Linked DNA regions of Homo sapiens. The protein of the gene in region 4 purifies or fractionates together with the protein of the main gene of each other region. This does not show direct contact. Each region holds a gene or a part of one and is shown on either strand. Other genes may lie near its edges. The genes, in order: XPO5, DAGLB, ATP7A, NCR3LG1, MMS22L, XPO6 and PODXL.

What was found.
Region 1: the proteins of NCR3LG1 (region 4) and XPO5 purify together in Homo sapiens (affinity purification with mass spectrometry; 2 studies listed by BioGRID and IntAct, with this or other methods). This does not show direct contact.
Region 2: the proteins of NCR3LG1 (region 4) and DAGLB purify together in Homo sapiens (affinity purification with mass spectrometry; 2 studies listed by BioGRID and IntAct, with this or other methods). This does not show direct contact.
Region 3: the proteins of NCR3LG1 (region 4) and ATP7A purify together in Homo sapiens (affinity purification with mass spectrometry; 2 studies listed by BioGRID and IntAct, with this or other methods). This does not show direct contact.
Region 5: the proteins of NCR3LG1 (region 4) and MMS22L purify together in Homo sapiens (affinity purification with mass spectrometry; 2 studies listed by BioGRID and IntAct, with this or other methods). This does not show direct contact.
Region 6: the proteins of NCR3LG1 (region 4) and XPO6 purify together in Homo sapiens (affinity purification with mass spectrometry; 2 studies listed by BioGRID and IntAct, with this or other methods). This does not show direct contact.
Region 7: the proteins of NCR3LG1 (region 4) and PODXL purify together in Homo sapiens (affinity purification with mass spectrometry; 2 studies listed by BioGRID and IntAct, with this or other methods). This does not show direct contact.

The regions. Positions count from the first base shown.
Region 1 is NC_000006.12:43,566,039-43,569,538, reverse strand, and holds part of XPO5 (exportin-5), read left to right. Parts: intron 1-801; coding exon 802-828; intron 829-2,184; coding exon 2,185-2,370; intron 2,371-3,500. UniProt on the Homo sapiens protein: Mediates the nuclear export of proteins bearing a double-stranded RNA binding domain (dsRBD) and double-stranded RNAs (cargos). XPO5 in the nucleus binds cooperatively to the RNA and to the GTPase Ran in its active GTP-bound form.
Region 2 is NC_000007.14:6,434,455-6,437,954, reverse strand, and holds part of DAGLB (diacylglycerol lipase-beta), read left to right. Parts: intron 1-1,421; coding exon 1,422-1,593; intron 1,594-2,934; coding exon 2,935-3,193; intron 3,194-3,500.
Region 3 is NC_000023.11:77,913,693-77,917,192, forward strand, and holds part of ATP7A (copper-transporting ATPase 1), read left to right. Parts: intron 1-3,500. UniProt on the Homo sapiens protein: ATP-driven copper (Cu(+)) ion pump that plays an important role in intracellular copper ion homeostasis.
Region 4 is NC_000011.10:17,372,300-17,375,799, forward strand, and holds part of NCR3LG1 (natural cytotoxicity triggering receptor 3 ligand 1 precursor), read left to right. Parts: coding exon 1-213; 3' UTR 214-3,500. UniProt on the Homo sapiens protein: Triggers NCR3-dependent natural killer cell activation.
Region 5 is NC_000006.12:97,273,217-97,276,716, reverse strand, and holds part of MMS22L (protein MMS22-like), read left to right. Parts: intron 1-3,500. UniProt on the Homo sapiens protein: Component of the MMS22L-TONSL complex, a complex that promotes homologous recombination-mediated repair of double-strand breaks (DSBs) at stalled or collapsed replication forks.
Region 6 is NC_000016.10:28,201,966-28,205,465, reverse strand, and holds part of XPO6 (exportin-6), read left to right. Parts: intron 1-3,500. UniProt on the Homo sapiens protein: Mediates the nuclear export of actin and profilin-actin complexes in somatic cells.
Region 7 is NC_000007.14:131,550,129-131,553,628, forward strand, and holds part of PODXL (podocalyxin isoform 1 precursor), read right to left. Parts: intron 1-3,500. UniProt on the Homo sapiens protein: Involved in the regulation of both adhesion and cell morphology and cancer progression. Functions as an anti-adhesive molecule that maintains an open filtration pathway between neighboring foot processes in the podocyte by charge repulsion.

The DNA.
Region 1 (3,500 bases), on a different chromosome or scaffold from region 4:
TGGTCTTGAACTCCTGACCTCAAATAATCCGCCTGCCTTGGTCTTCCAAAGTGCTGGGATGGTAGGCGTGAGCCACCGCGCCTGGCCTAATTTTGTATGCTTGTAAGTTAACATTATGTGCCTTTGTATGGATTTGAAATATAAGGATAAAAATCAACCATATTTGTATATTCACTGAATAGCCACTATTCTGATGTATTTAACATCATATATATATGTATTTTTTTTTGTTGTTTTTTTTTTTTTGAGACGGAGTTTCACTTTTGTTGCCCAGGCTGGAGTGCAGTAGTGCAATCTTGGTTCACTGCAACCTCTGCCTCCCGGGTTCGAGTGATTCTTCTGCCTCAGCTTCCCAAGTAGCTGGGATTACAGGCATGCGCCAGCACACCGGCTAATTTTTGTAATTTTAGTAGAGATGGGGTTTCACCATGTTGGCCAGACTGGTCTCAAACTCCTGACCTCAGGTGATCCACCTGCCTTGGCCTCCCAGACTGCTGGGATTACAGGCGTGAGCCACCACGCCTGGCCAACATCCAGTATTTTTGAGTACATGGTTTTCATATACTTAGGCTATACATACATGTTCATGAATTGTATTCATTTAATTATGCTTCTGACTTTACTTGTTCTCCCTAGGGGAATATCAGTTATGCGTGCTTAGTAAAGTTGTGTTATTTTCCAAGATGAAAAATTGCATATATTTAAGAATCATTATTCAAGGGCATTGATTTGTGGGGGGTAGAAAGTTATTATGTGGCCTTTTGCTCATTAAAAACACTGGATCTTTATACTTCCTTTCAGAAGACAGATACTTCTCAGGAGTCAAAGGTAAGAGCTCTTTATAAAGTTTGAAGGAGACCTTTGAACCTTTCAGGTGAGGGGATACGTGCCCCTAGTGGATGGTGACCTCAGCCTTGCTTGTGTTGTATTGTTTTGGAGACAGGTCTTACTGTTGCCCAGGCTGGAGTGCAGTTGTGTGGTCTCAGCTCACTGCAGCCATGACCTCCCCAGCTCAAGTGATCCTCTCACCTCAACTTCATGAGTAGCTGGGAATATAGGTGCGCACCACCATGCCCAGCTAATACTTTCTATAGAAACAGGGTCTCAGTGTGTTGCCTAGGCCGGTGTCAAACCCCTGGCTTCAAGTGATCCTCCAGCCTCGACCTCCTGAAGTGACTGTGGGCCACTGCATCTGTCGTTTGTTTTTTTTGTTTGTTTTTGTTTTTGTTTTTGAGACGGAGTCTCGCTCACTTGCCCAGGCTGGAGTGCAGTGGCGCGATCTCGGCTCACTGCAAGCTCTGCCTCCTGGGTTCACGCCATTCTCCTGCCTGGCCTCCCGAGTAGCTGGGACTACAGGTGCCCGCCACCACACCCAGCTAATTTTTTGTATTTTTAGTAGAGACGGGGTTTCACCATGTTAGCCAGGATAGTCTCAATCTCCTGACCTCATCATCCGCCCTCCTCAGCTTCCCAAAGTGCTGGGATTACAGGTGTGAGCCACCATGCCCAGCCTGTCCTTTGTTCTGTTTTTGATCACTGAGCTATGGTTGAAGGGAAGTAAAAAAAAAAAACAAAAACAGACTTACTTTTTTTTTTTTTTTTTGACACAGGGTCTTACTTTGTCACCCAGGCTAGAGTACAGTGACGCAAACGTGGCTCACTGCAGCTTCAGCCTCCAGGCTTCAAGTGAGCCTTACCTCAACCTCATGAGTAGCTGGGACTATAGATGCACACCATCATGCCTGGCTAATTTTTGTATTTTTTTGGTTAGGGTATTTTTTTTATTTTATTTTATTTTTTGTTTTTTTGGTAGACACTAGTTTTGCCATGTTGCCCAGGCTGTTGTTTTAACTCCTGGGCTCAGTTGATTCACCCACCTTGGCCTCCCAAAGTGCTGGTATTGCAGGTGTGTGCCACTGCACCCAGCCTTGGGAAGTAAAATGATAAGATTTGGGGTTTTGTGAAAAAGATAAAATGGCCACACATGCCAGTATGGTCTTGTTGTTGGATGTTGAGAATGTCATTGTTTGAGAAGTGATTGTGTTCCCTACCTGTGACTGTTACATGAGTATATTCTTAAAAAATAATTTTCTTAGAATTAGAAAATGGGAGTTCAGTTATAACCACTGATTCCTTACCTGTTACCGAGGACTTCATGGTCCAAAGTTACTTCTTTTCTGGTAGGCGCAAGCAAACTGTCGAGTAGGAGTTGCAGCACTGAATACTCTAGCAGGCTATATTGACTGGGTGTCTATGAGTCACATCACTGCTGAAAACTGTAAACTCCTGGAGATACTGTGTTTGCTGTTGAATGAACAGGAACTTCAGTTGGGAGCCGCTGAGTGTCTTCTCATTGCAGTCAGCAGAAAAGTAAGTTACCACTTCAAACTGACTTATCCTCAGTCTCTGAAGTAGGCTGTGTATGTGTTTAATTGCATGTTGTGGCAGAAAGTCATTTAAAGGTTTGGGTTTTTTTCCTTGGGGCCAACTTACTGCCTGCTTCCAACCCCCTTGGACAGGAGTTTGCCAATATTCAAGGGATCCTTTGGCAGAATGTGGAGATTTATCAGGCTGCATGGTTCTTGAAATAGCCATGATACTTGGCAATTTACAGTTAACAGATAAAAGTAAATGTTTAAGTTTAAAGCTCACTTAATGAATGTCAAGGAATCTTGGATGGTGGCTACAGTAGGTTTATATCTGTCTTTTTTTTTTTTTTTTTTTTTTAATTGAAACAGTCTTGCTCTGTCACCCAGGCTGGAGTGCAGTGGCGTGATGTTGGCTCACTGCAACGTCCGCCTTCCGGGTTCAAGCGATTCTCCTGCCTCAGCTTCCCGAGTAGCTAGGACTATAGGCACACGCCACCATGCCCGACTGATTTTTGTATTTTTTAGTAGAGATGAGGTTTTGCCATGTTAGCCAGGCTCTTCTCGAACTCCTGAGCTCAAGTGATCTGCCCTCCTCAGCCTCCTAAAGTGCTGGGATTACAGGCGTGAGCCACTGCGCCAAGCCTATGTCTGTCTTGGCTAACCAATGGAACTGTGACTCTTTTCTCCATAGGAATATTATCTACAAATGTAATTTACTTTGCTGTCATATCAGCATTATTGCCCAACACATTTATTTATTTATTTATTTATTTTTTGAGATGGAGTCTCGTTCTGTTGTCTAGGCTGGAGTGCAGTGGCGCAATCTCAGCTCAGTGCAACCTCTGCCTCCCGGGTTCAAGCAATTCTCCTGCCTCAGCCTCCTGAGTATCTGGGATTACAGGCGTGTGCCACCACACCCAGCTAATTTTTGTATTTTTTAGTAGAGATGGGGTTTCACTATGTTGGCCAGGCTGGTCTCGAACTTTTGACCTCAAGTGATCCACCTGCTTTGACCTCCCAAAGTGCTAGGATTACAGGTGTGAGCCACGGCACCTGGCCTAATTTTTGTATTTTTAGTAGAGACAGGGTTTCACCATGTTGACCAGGCTGGTCTCGAACTCCTGATCTCAG
Region 2 (3,500 bases), on a different chromosome or scaffold from region 4:
AAAGCTATTTCCTGGTAGGGTGCTGTGGCTCATGCCTGTAATCCCAGCACTTTGCGAGGCAAAGGCGGGCAGATCACTTGAGGTCAGGAGTTCAAGACCAGCCTGGCCAACATGGTGAAACCCAGTCTCTACTAAAAATACAAAAATTAGCCAGGTGTAATGCCTCTAATCCCAGCTACTAGGGAGGCTGAGGCAGGAGAATCACTTGAACCTGGGAGGCGGAGGTTGTGGTAAGCTGAGATCACACTACTGCACTCCAGCCTGGGCGACAGAGTGAGACTCCATCTAAAAAAACAAAAACAAAAATTAACCAAAAAACGCCCACAAAAAAACAACTGTCTATGGGACTATGAGGCCTATTTCAGCGTGGTGGTGTGCACCTGTAGTCCTAGCTACCAGAGAGGCTGAGGTGGGTGGATCACTTGAGCCTGAGAGGTGGAGGCTGCAGTGAGTCATGATTGTGCCACCACACTCCAGCCTGGGCAAGAGAGTGAGACCTTGTCTCCAAAAAGAATGGTAGCTATTACGCTCTCTGAGCTTCAGTTTGCTTGCTCATACGTAAAATGAGATAATGACTAACCCAGTCATTGTGGGGATTACAGAACTACGCACATAAAGTGTTTTAGGTTGGTGTCTAGAACAATGTAGGTCTCAAAGGGACGTGGAGCTTGTTTTCATGGCTGTTAGAACTTGGGTGACCATATATCCCTGTTTGCCTGGGACAGTTCTGTTTTGTGCCTGTTGTCTCAGCATAATTATTACTATTATTATTATTATTATTATTATTATTATTATTATTTTGAGACGGAGTCTTGCTCTGTCACCCAGACTAGAGTGCAGTGGCGCAATCTCAGCTCACTGCAACCTCCGCCTCCTGGGTTCAAGCGATTCTCCTGTCTCAGCCTCCCTCGCAAGTAGCTAGGATTACAGACGCCCGCCACCACGCCTCGCTAATTTTTTAATTTTTAGTAGAGATGAGGTTTCACCATGTTGGCCAGGCTGGTCTCGAACTCCTGACCTCAGGTGATCTACCTGCCTTGGCCTCCTCCCAAAGTGCTGGGAGTACAGGTGTGAGTCACCGTGCCCGGCCCCAGCATAATTATTAATAGTCCCCTTTTTTCCTCTCAGAAGTATACCAGTTTGGGCCATGATTATATTGTCACCCCAGTGAGAACCCAGAAGTGTTTTTAATCCCTGCTAAATCTTAAAAAAGAGCCCAGGACTTCTTGTCACGTTTCCCATCCTCATTTTCTCACTTGCTGTCTGACTTAGGTGCTGATTACCAATTATAAGTAGAAAAAGTCAGGAGGCGGGTGTGCACAGTACAAATGTATGCTCTGCAAAAGCTGTATTTTTGCAAAAAGGAAGCTCTTCATCTCTGAGGAAGCAACTGAGCAGTCGGAACGTTTTTTGTATTTCAGGAACGATTTGTAACCCTGGACCGCGGAAGTCTATGTCTAAGCTGCTTTACATCCGCCTGGCGCTGTTTTTTCCAGAGATGGTCTGGGCCTCTCTGGGGGCTGCCTGGGTGGCAGATGGTGTTCAGTGCGACAGGACAGTTGTAAACGGCATCATCGCAACCGTCGTGGTCAGGTGACATCTCCCTTCTTCTCTTTGAGTTTCAGTGGATTTGAGGCATAGGTGAACAAACCCTTCTAACATGACAGAGAGTCCAGCGTCCCTCGGACTTCCTCAAATAGTTAGAAATTGGAGTTAGTTTCTGCGTAACTCATGAAAATTTAGAGACACTGTTTGTCCATGAAATACAACTCGTCTTTCGTTATGCACGTATTGATGTAGATTTCTTTCCTTACTGGTTCTTTATTTTCTACATTCCCTTCTGTCTCTCTCTCTTTTTTTTTTTTCTTTTTTTCTTAAAGTCTTTTATTCCTAACCCTTCTCTTATAAGAATTCGGAAGAAAACCAAAGACCAAAACCAGAGCAAAAACTAAAACTAAAGGTATGAAAAGAGATACGGTGTCCAGAAGTGGGACAGGGAATAATATTCTAGAACAATAAGGTTTTCGTGTTTTCTAGGCTAAAAATCTTAGAGATGATCCAGTCCCGCCCCCTTAACACCCTCTGTTCTAAATAAGGAATCAGACCTGGGCTGTTGCTGCGTTTCTCGAGTCACACCGCCAGGGGGCAGCAGAGCCCCTTCGGGAGGGGCATTTCCCGGTTGCGTGTGCTCCTCAATCCGGCGTCTTGCAGTGTGAAATATTTAAACATATAGATGAGAGGCCTATCAGAGTACTCTGTGATACCTTCATGAGAAGAGCCCTGAGGCACCGAAGGGGAAGGGCGTATGTCATGGTCCCAGGGCCATATGGAGAAGAAGTGCCCGCTGCATCCGGGCGCAGGCTGCAACTCTGCCCAGCGGACACCTCCCTGTTCCTTCTGTGGCCTTTACTGTTAGGGCAGGGCCTGGGTTAACCACTGATTCATAAGGAACTTTTTTTTTTTTTTCTTTGAGACGGAGTCTCCCTCTGTCGCCCGGCTGGAGTGCAGTGGCGCCTCCTCGGCTCACTGCAATCTCCGACTCTCTGGTTCAAGCGATTCTCCTGCCTCAGCCTCCTCAGAAGCTGGGACTACAGGCACGTGCCACCACACCCAGCTAATTTTTGTGTTTTTAGTAGAGACGGGGTTTCACTATGTTGGCCAGGCTGGTCTCGATCTCCTGACCTCGTGATCTGCCGGCCTCGGCCTCCCAAAGTGCTGGGATTACAGGTGTGAGCCACCATGCCCAGCCTCATAAGGAACTTTCTAGAAGAAAGTTGCTTGCCTCAGGCAGGTTCCAGGAGAGCTGCATCTTCCTCGGTAACAGAACCCTCCGTGGTAGAGACTCAGAAACTGAACCTGGAGGAGGGACCCCGGACATCTGCGTCTGGGCTGGGGCCCGCAGTCACCGAGCCTTTTCCTCTCTCTGTCTTGCAGTTGGATCATCATCGCTGCCACAGTGGTTTCCATTATCATTGTCTTTGACCCTCTTGGGGGGAAAATGGCTCCATATTCCTCTGCCGGCCCCAGCCACCTGGATAGTCATGATTCAAGCCAGTTACTTAATGGCCTCAAGACAGCAGCTACAAGCGTGTGGGAAACCAGAATCAAGCTCTTGTGCTGTTGCATTGGGAAAGACGACCATACTCGGGTTGCTTTTTCGAGTACGGCAGAGCTTTTCTCAACCTACTTTTCAGTAAGCCGAGGGGATCTGGTTTGGTCTGTTTCTTCTGTTTCAGTAAATGCTTCTGATGGAGCCGGTCCCTCTGTTCCCATAAAACCGCGTTTGAGAACCTGGTGTCTTTGGGTGTGTGGGGGGTGGCCGGAGACCCTCTGTCTGTGATGAGCCCTCCAGGGAGCAGTTAACTGCAAGAGCCACACCTTCTCAGACCCTGTGTCCCAATAGGACATGTCTTCGTATTGACACCCACTCACTACCCTGTCAAAATGCTGGATTAGCCTGTAAGGAACCACATAACGGACGCTGTACCCTTTGAGAATAA
Region 3 (3,500 bases), on a different chromosome or scaffold from region 4:
TCTTTTTGTGCCCAAATGTATGAGATATTGGTAGACTACATCAGTTTTCACAGATACCTCTTTCCTTGAAGGAAATGAGGGTAAAATACCCCATTTTGAGTCAGTTATGTGTACTTTGTACCATATTTTCTGTTCACATTTAAAATTATACAGCTATGTCTCAAGGATGAAAAAAGAGTTTTACTTATTTTTACTATTAATCTCTAGTGTAGAAGTCCAGTTTTTCAGACCTATAATCAGGAGTGCATTTTTAACAATTTACCAGTTGAAATAAATGGGTTATTTCACATTGTAGGGATATTGTTTTAGACTGGCCATTAACCTTATTTTATTTTATTTTTATTTTAAAAGATGTTATTGTTATTATTTATCTATGTATTTATTTCTAGAGGCAGGGCCTCGCTCTGTGGCCCAGGCTAGGGTGCCATGGCACAATCATAGCTCACTGCAGCCTTAATCTCCTGGGCTCAAATGATCCTCTGGCCTCTCAAGTAGCTGGAACCACAGGCGCATGCCACCATGCCTAGCTACTTATTTATTAATTAATTATTATTTTTTAAATAATATTATTTTTAAGAGATGGGGTCTTGCTCTGTCACCCAGGCTGGAGTGCAGTGGCGCCATCATAACTCACTGCAGTCTCGATCTCCCAGGCTCAAGCGATCCTCCTACCTCAGCCTCCTGAGTAGCTGGGACTATAGGTGTGTGCCACCACTCCCAGCTAATTTTTAAACTTTTTGTAGAGACAGCATCGTGCTGTGCAGTGGTGCTATCTCGGCTCACTGCAACCTCCGCCTCCTGGGTTCTAGTGATTCTCTTGCTTCAGTCTCCCAAGTAGCGGGGATTACAGGTGCGCGCCACCACACTTGGTTAGTTTTTGTATTTTTGGTAGAGAAGGGGTTTTGCCATGTTGGTCAGGCTGGTATCGAACTCCTGACTGACCTCAAGTGATCCACCCTCCTCAGCCTCCCAAAGTGCTGGGATTACAGGCATGAGCCACTGTGCCAGGCCTTAAAACACCTAGTGTTAAAAATGGTGTCTTAATTGTATTCTCAGATTCTCCTAGAAAGAAAAGATATACTAAATGTATATTTAGATATACTAAAACACCTAATGTTTATTTTTGTTTATTTATTTTTGAGATGGAGTCTGGCTCTGTCACCTAGGCTGGAGTGAAATGGTCTATGTTTGTTTTTTCATCTTGACAGTAATATCTTTGAACATTTTCTGGAGTATTAGATATTATTCTCTTGATGCTTCAAGGTATCTTAACTTCACCATTGTATTGCGATATATTGTTTTGGAGAGACAGTATAATATAGGATTAAGAGTGGAGGCTAGGTGGGGCACAGTTGCTCACGCCTGTAATCCCAGCACTTTGGGAGGCCGTGGCAGGCGGATTGCTTGAGCCCAGGCGTTCGAGACCAGCCTGGGCAACATAGGGAAACCCTGTCTCTACAAAAAATACAAAAATTAGCTGAGTGTGTTGGCACGTGCCTGTAGTCCCAGCTACTCAGGAGGCTGAGGTGGAAGGATCGCTTGAGCCTGGAAGGTTGAGGCTGCAGTGAGCTGAGATCACACCACTGCACTCCACCCTGGATGAGAGAGTGACAGAGTGAGACCCTGTCTTGTCCGGAAAAAAAAAAAAAGCCTGTCTTGTCTGGCTCAGTCCAGGTGCTAGACTGTCTAGGTGGGATCCCAGCCCCTCTGCTTACTACTTGTATGACCCTGCGCAGATTTCATACTCCTCTGTGCCTCAGTTCCTTCAAATTTCTAAAATGGGGACAATAACAGTACCTGTCTCACAGGATTGTTAATGATCTAATACATGTACGGTGTCTGGCAGATAGTAAACATACAATAAAATGTAGTTACCTTTAATATTTTAATATATTATTTACTGTAAAAGTAATTTTAACATCCTATATAATAAAATTATAAATTACAGTTTTGCTGTACTATAAATTTAGTAGACTACAGGATCAATATACTAATCAATCAATACTTGCAAGCAATATTTAAATTCTTTAAAAAAATTTTTTTTGGAGACAGGGTCTTGCTCCGTAGCCCAGGCTGGAGTTGCAATGGCACGATCTCGGCTCACTGCAACCTCTGCCTCCAGGGTTCAAGCGATTCTCATGCCTCAGCCCCCCGAGTAGATGGGGTTACAGGCGTGTGCCACCACACCCGGCTAATTTATTTATTTTTAGTAGAGATGGGGTTTCGCCATGTTGGCCAGCCTGGTCTCAAACTCCTGGCCTCAGGTGATCTGTCCGCTTCAGCCTCCCAAAGTGCTGGGATTACAGGTTTGAGCTACCGCTCCCGGCCCTGCCACCACGCCCGGCACAATACTTAATTTCTAACTTACACCATAGAAAATTGGCCGGTGCGGTGGCTCACGCCTGTAATCTCAGCACTTTGGGAGGCTGAGGTGGGTAGATTGCTTGAATTCAGGAGTTCCAGACCAGCCTGGGCAACAAGGTGAAACCCCATCTCTACAAAAATTACAAAAAATAGCCAGGTGTGGTGGCATGCGCCTATAGTCCCAGCTACTGGGGAGGCTAAAGTGGGGGAATTGCTTGAGCCTGGGAGGTTGAGGCTGCAATGAGCTGAGATCATGCCACTGCAGTCCAGCCTGGGTGACAGAGTGAGACCCTGTCTCAAAAAAAAAAAAAAAAAGAAAAAAAAAGAGAAAGAAAATGGAAAACTCAGATTGAGAGGGTCCCCCAGTAGCCTATAGTACACCTACATATGCTAACATGGCATCTTAAAGCTCATTATTACAGCTGGCAAATCAAATCACTGTGATGTGCTCATCCTATTTCCCTATCAAGAAAACTCATAACAATCTGCTTCTGTAATTAGTGAGCCACAGACTCTAGGCCATCGAGATTTTCCACATTCCCTAATTGTCAAATGCTGAACCATACTTGTACTGAATAAGTTGTGATACAGTGTAAGCAAGGGAAAAGGCCTTATGTATGTCTAACCTACTCTGCAAATAGCTGCATTCTTACAAAGTTGTGTGTAAATTGAATTTTTACAAAGCATGTCAGCACTTTGATTAGTACATTTTTATTGTGTGCTTATTGCATATTCAGTGTTTCCTGTGAGCTATACAAAGAAGCATAAGGCATATGTTCCAATGTCTAGCAAGAGAAAGAAGTTTAATACCAAGCAGAGAGAAATTAGGTACTACTAAACTATGAAACTGATTCCAGGGTATTCGGAATTTAAAAAGAAAGTGGCTAGGAGTATTTGACATGATTTTTCATGAAGGAGGTGGGACTTCAGTTCATTTACTTACTCAACAGTGATTTATTGAGTAGCCACCATGTTCACTGGTGGTATGATAGTGAACAGAGCAGATATGGTCCTGTTTCTGTGGAGTTTACAGACTAGTGAAGTAATAGAACTTAAATATGTGCAAGAAAACATTCTAGGTGAGGGGACCAGTTCTAAACAAAGTCATAGAAATAAATGATAAGAGCATGGACTAT
Region 4 (3,500 bases):
ATTGACCCTGCTCTCCTAACAGTTACATCAGGCAAGTCCATAGATGATAATTCCACAAAGTCTGAGAAACAAACCCCTAGGGAACACTCGGATGCAGTTCCGGATGCCCCAATCCTTCCTGTCTCCCCTATCTGGGAACCTCCTCCAGCCACAACATCAACAACTCCAGTTCTATCCTCCCAACCCCCAACTTTACTGTTACCCCTACAGTAAATGCCTGATGGACCTGGTGCCACTAGGGTCCAAGTTCCCTTTTCATTACAGGACCTTGGGCAAATAAGAGGGGACCTGGGCAAGTTCTCTGATGACCTGATAGATATATAGAGGCTTTCCAAAACCTAACTCAGGTGTTTGACCTTACTTGGGGTGATGTTATGTTGCTCTTAAACTCTTAACTACTACAGAGAAACAGGTAGCCCTGCAGGCAGCAGAAAAATTCAGAGATGAACAACATGTCTTCTATAGCCACTCAATAAGGAAAGAAGGTGAGAAACAACCAGCATTCACATACCCAATAGGAAGCGAGGCAGTGCCCCTTGAACAACATAATTCGGACCCCAGTGGTACCTTAGATGAGTGGCAAAGAAAACATTTTCAAATGTGCTTATTAGAGGGCCTACAGAGGACCAGAGCCAAGCCTCTTAATTACCCCAAACTCTCCATGATAGATCAAAAACTAGATGAAAATCCCTCAGCCTTTTTGGAAAGGCTGAGAGAGGCTGTAGTGAAACACACTTCCTTGTCTCCTGTTAGGTATGTTTATACCTCACATAAATAATTCAATTGAGGGACAGCTAATTTTGAAAGACAAGTTTATTACTCAGACAGCCCCTGATATCAGAAGGAAGCTAGAGAAACAGGCCATGGGATTAGATAGCACCTTACAAAACCTCCTGAAGGTAGCCACCTCGGTCTTTTATAATAGGGACCAGGAGGAGGCCCAGGGGAAGGAGAGGAAACACAAGAAAAAGGCAGAGACTCTGGTGGCCACTTTGTATAAAACCCAGTATCCCCAAGGTACACCTGCTAGTTGCTACCAATGTGGCAAACTAGGGCACTTCAAAAGGGACTGCCCAGGCAGCAAGAAGAAGCCACCTCAACCCTGTCCAGTATACAATGGGGACCACTGGAAGGCAGACTGTCCTGGGAAGCATAGGTCACTGAGTCCAGAGCCAGTCTCACAAATGGTCCAGCAGGACTGATGGGTCCTGGGGCTCAACTCCCTGGCTCCAGTGGCTCAGACTGCTGTTACTACCCGGGAGCACCAGGTGATTCTGGAGTTCGAAGGGAGGAAGGTAGACTTCTTTCTGGACACTGGAGCCAGGCTTCTGTTTTCCTCTCCAATTCAGGCCTTCGTTCCTCCCATAGCACAACCATGATGGGCATCTCAGGAAAGACTTTAACTTGATATTTTTCTCAACCTATTAGTTGCAGTCAGAGGGACCTACTGTTTACACAGGCCTTTTTAGTCATGCCTGAAAGTCCCACTCCTTTATTAGATAGAGATATTCCAGCACGTATGGGGGCCACCATCCTTATGGCTCCAGGACAAACTCCGCCTCCCCTTAGTGGAAACCAGTATTAACCCAGAGGTTTGGGCAACTCAGGGAAGAAGTGGCCGGACTATAACCACTATACCAGTCTGGATCCACCTCAAGGATCCCACTTTTTTTCCTAACCAGAGACAATACCCTCTGAAGCCAGAAAGTAGAAAAGGGCTAGACGCCAGCATTGATAACCTAAAGGCACAAGGCCTCCTTAGGCCTTGCAGTAGCCCTTGAAACACCCCAATATTAGGGGTGCAAAAATCCAATGGGGAAGGGAGACTAGTTCAGGACCTCTGCCTTATTCATGAGGCTGTGATTACGATTCATCCAGTAGATCCCAGTCCCTATACTTTGCTAACTCAAATATCCAAGGGAACTAAATGGTTCACAGTTCTGGGCCTAAAGGATGCCTTTTTCTGTATACCTTTATACCCTGACTCCCAATACTTGTTTACCTTTGAAGACCCCTCCAATCAAACCACCCAGTTAACCTGGACTGTACTGCCTCAGGGATTTAGAGATAGCCCCCACCTATTTGGGCAAGTATTGTCAAGAGATCTCTTCGAATTCTTCCATTCTCAGGTTAAAGTTTTACAATATGTAGATGACATTCTCCTCTGTGCCCCAACTGAGGAAGTTTCTTGAGACGGCACTGAGGCTCTCCTTAATTTCCTAGCTGGAAAGGGATATAAGGCTTCAAAATCTAAGGCTCAGCTCTATCAGACTTTGGTAAAGTACCTAGGTCTGGTCTTGTCAGAAGGGAACAAGAGCACTAGGCGAGGAGAGGATTAATCCCATTTCCTCCCTTCCTCTCCCCAGAACCCTCAAGCAGCTGAGGGATGCTTGGGCATTACAGGTTTTTGTAGGTTATAGATACCCAGGTATGATAAAATAGGTTGCCCTTTATATCACCTTATAAAAGAAATTCAAGTGGCTAAAACTCACTTCCTGACCTGGGAACCTGAAGGTCAAAAGGCCATTAATCAGTTAAAACAAGCCTTGCTTAAAGCACCAGCCCCCAGTCTTTCTGTAGGGAAGTCCTTTAATCTTTATGTATCATAAAGGAAAGGAATGACCCTGGGAGTTTTAATTCAAGTTCAAGGCCCAGCTCAACAGCCAGTAGGTTACTTAAGTAGAGAGCTTGACTTGGAGGCTAAAGGATGGCCAGCTTGCCTCTGAGCAGTTACAGTAGTGGCCCTGCTAGTCCCAGAGGCCACCAAGTTAACCCTGGGGAATAACCTGTTTATGCCTCACATAAATAATGTGGCAGGCTTGCTGTCCTCTAAAGCGAGTCTCTGGCTAACAGACAGCTGCCTCCTCAAGTATCAGACTTTGCTGCTAGAGGAATCTGCAGTCCAGTTAAAAACCTGACCTTGCCTGATCCCAGACACTTTCCTCCCAGAGGAAACTGGAGAAACTGAACATAATTGTGAACAGACTGTAGTACAACCTATGCCGCTAGGGAGGATCTCAAAGAAATTCCCCTAGAAAATCCAGACTGGACCCACTTTATGGATGGGAGCTCTTTTGTAGGACAGGGAGTCTGAAAAGTGGGATATGCAGTAGTCACCCTAAATAACATTGAAAATGTGCCTCTCTCACCAGGCACACACACTCAATCAGTTGAGCTGATCCCTCTCACAAGAGCACTTGAACTAAGCAAAGGAAAGACAGCTAACATTTATACTGACTCCAAGTGTACCTTTCTAGTTCTCCTTGCCCATGCTGCCATCTGAAAGGAAAGGCACTTCCTCACCGCTAATGGGTCTTGCATTAAATACCATCAAGACATCAACAGGCTATTATCCTCAGTGTTCCTCCCATGAGAATTAGTGGTCAGACATTGCAGAGGGCATCAGAAGCGGGTAGATGAAATAGCGAAAGGAAACAGGCTAGCAGACCAAAGAGCTAAGTCAGCAGTAAGAAGGCCCCAAGGTCCCAAAACACTTGAGG
Region 5 (3,500 bases), on a different chromosome or scaffold from region 4:
GAAAAGTTTTTCGGACAGGAAGAATTCCAGGCAGAAAAAAATAAAACTGTATAAACAAAGACGTGATGTGTGTAAAAACATAAAAGTTTAGAGAGCATGGATTAAATATTAATTACATATGGTTGGATCAGAATGTGTGTGAGTGATGAATTTGGAAGGGATAAAAGCAGAGTTGGCTTTGTAAACCATGACAGAGAGTATGATTTTTATTTTGGAACTCCTGTGGAGCCACTAAAAGATTATAGTGGAAAGAACCAAAATACCTTTACCTTTACGTAGAATAACTTAAGTAAATTGGGTTCATGGAAGGCATTTATTATGATAGATTATTATTATTACACTTATTAACCTGAAACCACTGCAGTGGACTATTTGTTAAGATGGTTGTTTGTTACACTGACATTTTGGCTGTTTTTGTTGCTTAAAAAAGCTTTTAATGACAGATTTTGGACAAGTTAGTGGTGTTAAATATTATCCATACATGAACATGTCCCTGCCATGTAGCTGTGTTCATTAACTTGTGTAGCTACCCTTGGACCTCAGCTGTGCCAAGAAGTCCCTATGTAGTTACTTACTGCCAGATGAGTATAGTTCTTGTTCTAGCCATTATGCTTCCAGGGTTAATTTCCAGTTGAGGCAGAATAACATACTTAATGACATGTTTTGCTGACAGCTGTTTTTTTTCTCTCTTTCCGTCTCTTTGTCTCTGTCTCAAGACAGGGTCTCACTCCATCGCCCAGGCTGGAGTGCAGTGGTGCGATCATGACTCACTTCAGCCTTGACCTCCTGGGCTCAAGCAGATCCTCCCATCTCAGCTTCCCAAGTAGCTGAGACTACAGGCTCACGCCATCATGCCTGACTAAAATTAATTTTTTGTAGAGATAAGGTCTCACTATGTTGCCAAGACTGGTCTCAAACTTCTGGGCTCAAGTGATCCTCCCGCCTTGGCCTCCTAAAGTGCTAGCATTATAGGTATCACCCACCACACTCAGCCAAGAGCTATTCTTAAATATAATTGTTGGTGTTACCCTGTCTCAGCTATTGTGTGTGTGTTTTTTTTCTCTAGACATTCCTTATGGATTTTTTAAAATGTCTTCTGTTTCTGACTTCATGCTTGTTTTCATCCATCTTGAATATATGGAGTATACATTATAACCACTGTTGTTGCTGCTATTAATAATTCTTCTTTTTGAGAGGGCATCTTGCTCTGTCACCAGGCTGGAGTGCAGTGGCGCCATCTCGGCTTACTGCAACCTCTGACTCCCTGGTTCAAGCAATTTTCCTGCCTCAGCCTCCCGAGTAGCTGGGATTACAGGCACACGCCACCATGCCTAGCTAATTTTTGTATTTTTAGTAGAGACAGGGTTTCATCATGTTGGCCAGGATGATCTTGATCTCCTGACCTCGTGATTCGCCTGCCTCAGCCTCCCAAAGTGCTGGGATTACAGGCGTGAGCCACCATGCCCGGCCAATAATTCTTTTATCACTGTCATTTCTGAAACTATTTGTATTGATTAGTTTTTCTCCTGATTCTGTGATATATTTTTCTGCTTCTTTGAATATATAGTAATGTTTTATTGTTAGATGAACATTGTGGGTTTCACATTGTTGCTTTCTGGATTTTTATTCCTTAAACTAGATGTTGAATTTTGTTATGGGTCGCTATTGTGTAGTTGTAATCCACTGGTTCTTCTTGAGGCTTGTTTTAAATTTTGGTAGGACTTTTAAAAAGCAGCCTTTAATGTTAACTTAGCCTAGTAAATTAGTCTAGTAAGGCTTTGAGAATTCTTTCTCGTGCGTAGTCTATTATGAGATTTTTTTTCATGCTTGCTGGTGAGAACTTGAACTATTCCCTGGCTTGTGTACTCTTTATAGGGAATTGTTTTCTGGTGTTTTTCCCTGGCGTTGGGTAATATTTTTCATGCTTGAACAGATCGATACTTAAATCTCAGAGGGACACTTCTGTACCCTTCCAGAACTCTATTTTGTATAGCTTCTTTCTTCTTGGGTACTTTTGCCCTGCAAATTTGGACTTCCCTAAACTTGGATCCCATATCTCCTCATCTCAAAGAGTGAGTTGGGCTGTATTTGGGTTCTCTTCCTCATATTGAAGCCTGGAAACTGTCTCTAGGTGGGGAGCTGGTACAGTTGTAGGGCTCAGTTTCTCTCTGGGAGAGCAATCTTATATTGTCTTGTGTCCAGAGCCTGAAAACTTGCTTGACGTAATTTTTATGGTTTTCAGCTTTACAGTGGGAGATGGAGCAATCTGATTATTTTACTCCGTCTTGCCTGGATGCAGATGTTCACTGCAGTTATTTTTAAGAGAGTACTGCCTTAATGGGCCGAGAATTGTGAAAATTGGGATGATATGACTTTTTATGGGTGAAATAAAGCCATAAAAATGCAGTTTAATATGGAGGTATTTACACAACTGCTTCACACTTATGCTTCTATTCTGCCACAGTAGTGGCATGATTGTTCATTTGAATTAAACTTTAGTTTCATGTTTAGTATGGCTGTAAATTTGTAGCCTATAATTCTCATCATGTTTTCTTTGCTTTTGTTTACTAGATTGTCTCTTACTCATTCTCTATATAATGATTATTAGTGTTTTGCCCATAGTAACTACCTAGATAATTATTGCTGATATAAATGCTGAAGTAAGTGAGGGAAAGCTGACATGGAGTGAGGTTGGGAGAAAGGCAGCAACTATTAAAAGGTCGTTCAGAGCTTTATAAATTATTATTAGGAGTTTTGATTTTATTCTAAATATAATAGGTATTCTTTCAAGAGTTTTGACTTGGGAACAAGATAAATTGATATACATTTTAAGCAGATTTTTTACTTAGTGTATAGGGGGACAAAAGAGAGCATGGAAAGACCTGTGAAGAGTGCTATTGTGGTGGTTTAAGTGTTTATAGGGAAAATGGATAGTTTCAATGTATATTTGGTTATTAACTTAATAGGACTCTGAAGGATTAGATACGAGGTTAAAGGAAATGCAAGAATCAAGAACCATATAGGCTACTGGTGGCACCATTTTATGAAAGGCTGAAAACAAGGACAGCATCAACAGGTTTTGAAAGAAATCAAAGGAGGTATTATTTGCACTGTCTGAGCAATCCAAGTATAGGTGTTAGGCAGTTTAACACGGAAGGTCTGGAGTGCAAAGGAGAGATGGGGTTGTAGATAACCCTTTTAGAGTCATTATCATTTATTAATAAAGGAACTGATGAGATCATACATATGGGAAGAGATATACAGAGAGTAGAGGATTCAGGACTGAGTCTTGAAGAGACCATATTAATAATAGAATTGAGGAGGAGGAGCCAATAAAAGAGGTAGGACAAAGGATACATGAGGAAGAAAGAAGACTCATTATCTGGCACCATGAAGCCAGGTGTAGCTAGTGCTACTGTGGGAGCAAGTTACTTGAGGGTAGGCACTGTCTATTAGATTGGGCAATGTGGGTGTGATTGGTGACTTTAATAAGAGCATTT
Region 6 (3,500 bases), on a different chromosome or scaffold from region 4:
GTCAGGGAAGGCTTCCCAGGAAGGTATATTTGAGTCTTGAAGGATGAGGAAGAGTTTGACACTGGGACAAAGAAAGGGCCTTCCAAGTGAAAGTTTCTTGCAGACAGTTACAAAGGTCACATATATAGCAACAAAGATAATAGAAAATGATAGGTGTGAAGTGAGAGTGAAGGAAATAAACATTTGTTGGGTGCGTAGGACTTTCTAGGGCTTTATATGCATACCTATGTACACATATACATGTAGTACACAAACATGGTATTTTTTTTATCTGAAACCTTTACTCCTACTTTCCTGGCCAGTTATTGCCCTATTTCTTTTTTCCCCTTTGCAACAAAACCCCAGGAAGGAGTGGCCTGTACTTGGTCTCTAATTCCTCACTTTCCCTTTGCTCATTAATTTTAGACATAGGATCTCGCTCTGTCGCCCAGGCTGGAGTGCAGTGGAGTGACCATAGTTCACAGCAGCCTTGAACTCCTGGGCTCAAGGGATCCCCCTGCCTAGGCCTCCCAAAATGCTGGGATTATAGATGTGAGTCCCCACGCCTGGCATTATTCTCTCTTAATCTCACTTATCAAGGTGATAAGTGTTGCTTATCCAGTGTTGCTAAATCCAGTGGTTAGCTCTCAGTCCCTATCTTACTGGATCTGTCAGTAGTGTCAGACAAGTGGAGTACCCCTTCTGCAGTTCAGCCTTTCGTCACTTGGCCGCTGGGACACTAAGGTGTGTTCTTGGTTTTCCTCCTGTCGCACAGGTTGTTTCTTCCTCATCTCATAGCCGGAACACTCTAGGCCTCGAACTTAGTGCCTTCATCCAGGACACCTATAACCCAACATCTCTCTCCTCAGCTCCAGTTCTCGAGTCTCCAGCTGTCTGCTTGACATCCAAGCTGGTTTGTGAGACGGGTCACATCTCCCCTCTAGCTCACCTCCTTTAGCTCTCACTGGCTGTGCTGCAGCTCCCTCGGTCTTCTTACTGCTCTTCAGACCTTCTGGGCATGTTCCTGCTCCAGGCCTTTGGCCTGGCTCCCTGCCTCTGCTTGGACCGTGCTCTCCCTGAGAATCTGCTTGACTAAACCTTTAAGCCTCGAGTCACTTTTCCAGTGGGGCCTTCCCTCACCACCCTGTTTAAAATGGTAATGCCACTTCAGCACTTCCAGTCCCTGACATCCTGCTTTACTTCTCTTTTTGTACAATTTTTTAACATTTTATATACTCAATATTATTAATGAGGTTGGTCTTTTGTTGTCTCCTGCTAAAATGTTAGCTCCATAAAGCTAGGGAATCTCTCTTTTGTTCATGTATCCCAAGAGTCTAGAGCAATTCTTGGCATAGTGGGCAATTAAATTGTGGTAGGGATGTTGTTGAGGTCTTGGGTGTTCAAAGGGAGCTTTAGGGAAGGAGTAAACTAGGCTCCCTAGCAGTTTCAGAAGTTTGGAAGTTTCAGAAGAGAAGGATGTGAAGAAGTAGTTGGAGAGAAGGCTATCAAGGTAGTTTGTGGCTAGATGATGGAGGGTCTCCAGTACTACCCTAGGGAGTTTGGCTTTCTCTTGTTGGATGGTTTTTCCTTAAAGGAAACTTAATCTGCTGTGTATAGGTTAGATGTGGGAAACCAGATGTTACACCATGCCTGTGTGGATGTGACAAGGGCCTGCCTGTTCTTGCATGTGTAATTAGTGGTTGAGAGGAAGACCTGGTAAGGGAGTTGTCACTTAAAACTGATTCCAGAGTTAAGAGATGAGGAAGAAGGAAAAGCACAAGCTGATTTTGGAAGCCTGTAACCTGGCGATTGAGAGTAGTAGAAAGTTTTAATCAGTTGGTGATTTGGATTTGGTAGGAATGGAAGCGATAACATGTAAACTGATAGGAAGAGATGACAGGAGATGGGCCATGTGCTGATGAAATATGGGATGTGGCTATCTCTGTAGGTAGGTGAGCAGTTGTGGCGCTGTTGACATGAAGGTAGTTGGCCCTGGGCACGAGAAGGATGTTGAAGATCTTAAGTAGTTGCATTGTCAAATGTATCTGTCTAAGCCAAGGAAGATGTGATAGCACAGGCTGTGTTGAAAGGGTAGGAATTCCTGAAAGTGTGGTTGCCACTCTACCTCTACTTTTTCAACCTCCCACCTCTCCTTTCCCCCTGTCATTCATTCTACAACCCATTGCTGACTGACTTTTTTTTTTTTTTTTTGAGATGGGGTCTTACTCCGTCGCCCAGGCTGGTGTGCAGTGGAGCAATCATGTCTTACTGCAGCCTCTATCTCCTGGGGCTCACGCGATCCTCCCACCTCAGCCTCCTGAGTAGCTGGAACTATACGTATGCATCACCATGCCTGGGTAATTTTGTATTCTTTGTAGATACGAGGTTTCACCATGTTGCCCCTGCTGGCCTTGAGCTGCTGGGCTCAAGTGATCCTCCGGCCTCAGCCTCCCAAAGTGCTAGGATTACAGGCGTAAGCCACCACGCCCAGCCAGCAGACTTTTTGTCTTTACCACTTTTCAAGATTATGTGTAACATCTGTGTGCTGAGTTCAGTTTAATGCGTATTTTCAATCCTTAGGTCATTTGACCTCTCAGTGTGGCCTTTGGCAGCCACTGATCTCCTTTTCTTTTCTTGAAACACTTTTCTTCTTGGCTCCCGTGGCATCCATGGTATTAGTCTCTTGGTTTAGCCTCCCATGGCTTCAGCTATGACCCGTGTACCAATGAAAACTAAACCCTCACCAGCTGTAGATATCCAGTGTTCTGACAACATCAAATTAAATGTGTGTTAAACCAAATCCATCATCTTCCTCTCAGGTTAGTGCCTCCTCTGTCTTGCCCTGGTTCTGTTAATGACCTCATTTTCTAGCTAGTCAAATGATGAACCTGAGTCATCTTTAACTTCCTCTTCTATAGCGCCCCCCTGCTTCCAGACCTGTTGATGCTGCTGCTAACGTATCTGTGTCCTGACCCTGACCTTTCCCTCCATTCCCTCTGCTTTGATCAAGCTGTCATTGTCTCTTGCTTTGGTTGTTGCTGTCATGACCGGTCCTCTCTTCCAGGTTCTGCGTCCCTCTGTCCATCTTCCGTACTGCTGAGCTGCCTCATAGAGCTCAGATGTGATCATGCCACGTGAACCCCAGTCATTCAGAGCAGAGGGTTCCCACTGTTGTCTGAGACCAAGTTTTCATCATGGTAGAGTAACATGGGCCCTGAATTTTAAGTTTCTTACTTACTTTGAGGTCCCTCAGTAAGGATGAAGATGGTTCATTAAATACTTAAAGTGATTTATTTGGAGTATCTATGAAAGACTTCCCAAAGTACACCTTGTTTTCCAGCCACAGCAAACCATTTGTCATTCCCAGAACACTCAGTGCACTTTAATACTTGTCTGCCTTTGCTGATGCTGTTCCCTCTGCTCTAGCGCCCTTTTCTTTCTTGCAAATGAAACTTATGTGACATCTCAAGGTTACCATAAACATTACCTCTCTGAGGCTTTCCAGCTGCTAGTTTATCATA
Region 7 (3,500 bases), on a different chromosome or scaffold from region 4:
CTAGAGGCTGTGGAAATGACAGGGGGTCCTCAGCCAGTGGGCCAGTGGCAAACACCGACATATTTAGGCACAATGCATGGTGGCCAGTGCTATGGCACAGTATTCCAGGCACCCTTAGGAGTCTAACTCTTAAATAGCAACATGGCCCCAAGCCTCAATTTACCCTTATGGTAGAGGGGTAGGGAAAGAGATGTGGGCACAGTATAGGTTTGTCACCATCCTAAAGTCCTTTTTAAAGAGGTTTTTCGCCAGGCATGATGGCTCATGCCTGTAATCCTAGCACTGGGAGGCTGAGGTGGGCAGATCACTCAAGGTTAGGCGTTCAAGACCAGCCTGGCCAACATGGTGAGACCCTATTTCTACAGAAATTAGCTGGGTGTGGTGGCGCATGCCTGTAGTCCCAGCTACTCAGGAGGCTGAGGCAGGAGGATGTCTTGAATCTGGGAGGCAGAGGTTGCAGCAAGCCACCTGCACTCCACCCTTGGCAACACAGCGAGATTCCATCTCAGAACAAAAAGAAGTAAAATAAAAAAATATATAAAGGGGATTTGGTGAGTTTTTCCAATTCCCAGGAGGGAATCAGCACTGAAAGGGCTGAGTTCTATTCTGGTATTTACAGCTGACACGTATGCGCACATGCACACACATACATGCACGCACACACACACACACGCACACACACGTGTGCACACCCACCTCCTGGAAAGCTATTTATTGAGAGTCACTGGGAACTTGGGCGAATGAACCCACCTCCCTGGCCTGCAATCCCCCATTTGAAACAAGCAGGTTGTAGTAGATGATTTCCAGAAGGCTCCCCAGCTCTAGAATTCTGTGTCCTATGATTTTCTGGCTCATTTAGAAGTGGTGTGGAAAGTACCCTTTGCCAACCGAATTCCACATTGCACAGCCTGCAGGCTGCCGACTCGAAGCAGTCATATGGCAAATGTTACTGCAAATATGAAGAGGCTCCTTTAAGGGATCCTCTGTGTCAATTTTCTTGAAGGCTTTTCTTATAGAGAATGCCCCCGTCATTTGGCCTGTGCAGGGTAGGAGTCACCATCCCAGATCTGCTACATCACTTGATTTCTTAACAGCCCCATAGAGCAGACAGGATACATGATAAAGAGAGGCCCATCCAACTTAGCCCATGTTCCTGGGTCCGGGACAGGAAACCCCACCAGCTGAGCTCCCTGCCCTGCTTCATGGCCAGTGGGTGCAAATAGGAAATGAGCCCAGAGCTGGGTAAAGAGCTCCTGGCTGAGGTCCAGTGAAAGTGTCCAGGCAGGCTCAGGCTGGTGGGTAGGGATGGGCAGGGCAATGCCATTCTCTTTCTCTGATTATGTAGGAATGACTTCCATTTCAGCTAGAGCAAAGCTTGCATTCAGCAGCCCTGAAGAGGGCCTCTGCCTCAAAGGGTGTGAAGAAGCAGCACTTCCTGGAATAGGGGTCATCTACGTCCCCTCCTGAGAAGTCCAGTGAACTGGAGACACGATTCCTCCCACTTCCCTTAAGAGTGAAGGGCTCTGAGCTGGGTGCGGTGGCTCATGCCTGTGATCCCAGCACTTTGGGAGGCTGAGGCGGGCGGATCATGAGGTCAGGAGATCGAGACCTTCCTGGCTAACATGGTGAATCCCCGTCCCTACTAAAAAATACAGAAAATTAGCCGGGCGTGGAGGTGGGCGCCTGTAGTCCTAGCTATTCGGGAGGCTGAGGCAGGAGAATGGCGTGAACCCGGGAGGTGGAGCTTGTAGTGAGCTGAGATCACGCCACTGCAGTCCAGCCTGGGTGACAGAACGAGACTCCATCTCAAAAAAAAAAAAAACAGTGAAGGGCTCTGAGCTAAGTGCTGAGCCAGCTCCACAGCAGCCACCAGCATCACAGGGGTCACCAGCCCCACAGAAGCCTTAACCTTCAGCAGTTGCTCCCACCAGCTCTAGCTGCTGGAGAACAAGCCCACTGGCCAGACATCCCTTCCCAGGATGCAAACTCCCCTTCCAGGGAGCCTAAAGCCAGGGCTGAAGCCGGTTCCCCTCAGTTCTACAGTCCAGAGTATCCCAAGCGACCGCTCAGCGCTGGGTGCTGGGCTGGGCCCTGGAGGTGGTGATAAGTATGTTGTTGGCCCCTCGAGGGCCTCACCGCATGGTGGAGGAGACACACAGATCATGGAACACACTTTGGTTCTCCCTAGGAAACCAGGGAAGGCATCTCAGAGATGATGCCTGAGGGTGGCTAGGAGTGGCTCTTCCCCTCCCTCCCTGCAAGGGGGGGAATTCTAACCACAGGGAGTCTAGTCCCCTTCCCCTCTCAGCTTTCCACAGGGCAGTGGTGTTAAAACCCCAGGCAGCACCCTCCTCTCCTTTCAAACATGGGTTCCTGAGGAAAACCAGATGGGGGACAGCCTCCATGCCTCTTCCCCCACCTTCTCTAGGCCTGGGGGACACCCTGAGGACCCTCCTGGGCAGGCCACGCTCCCCTCCTCAGCCCTTCTCTGGACGACCACACTCCAAAGCTCTGGCCACACTGACACCAGGTGCTTTTGGGTCTGCCCTTGAATGGCTGGGCTCCTAACCCCGCCATGTCCAGCTCGCTCCTGCCTCAGATCCTGTCCCAAGCTGCACCATGCTGGGAACACCCACATTCCCCCACCCCAGCCCTGGGCACCTTGTTTTTTTCCTTGAGTCAGGGTCTCCCTCTGTTGCCCAGGCTGGAGAGCAGTGGCGTGATCTTGGCTCACTGCAACCTCTGTCTCCCACGTTCAAGCAATTCTCCTACCTCAGTCTCCTGAGTAGCTGGGACTACAGGCGTGTGCCACTACCATGCCCAGCTAATTTTTTTGTCTTTTTAGTACAGTCTTACTAGGTTGCCCAGGCTGGTCTTGAACTCCTAGGCTCAAGTGATCCTCCCACCTTGGCCTCTCAAATTTGCTGGGATTCCAGGCGTGAGCAGCCACACCCTGCCACCGTGGAATTTTCTCTCCAGTTCTGAGAGCTAATCTCCCCAAAGCCTCAATGACTCCATCTCAAGAACCACCATCACAGACTCCCCGACCCTAATCTGCATCTCCCCTACACACTACAATTCATAGAGCCTCAGCCACATTAGGAAACACTGACCCTTTTAATTTTAAAATCCCTATGTGAAAACCCCACCTCCTTCAGGAAGCTTTCTCCAGACCTCCAGACCACCCCTTCCAAATCTTATACTCTTTTCCATATGCCTCCCTCTCCCACAGAGTGGCACTGGGGCTTCAGTTTTTATTATCATATATCCACTGATACCCACAAACATTGGCAGGATCCCAATGCCTGGGGTCCCTTAAACCCACCAGGTGCTCAATATATATGCTTACTAATCATCATAGCTATTTTTTGAGTGTTGATCCTGAGTTGGGCGTAAAGCCAAGCCCATGATATATATACTCGCTCATCTTCATAGCAACCCACAAGGTAGGGCTGTTATTACTTTATAGATGAAGAAACTGAGGTTCAGGGAGGTCCACT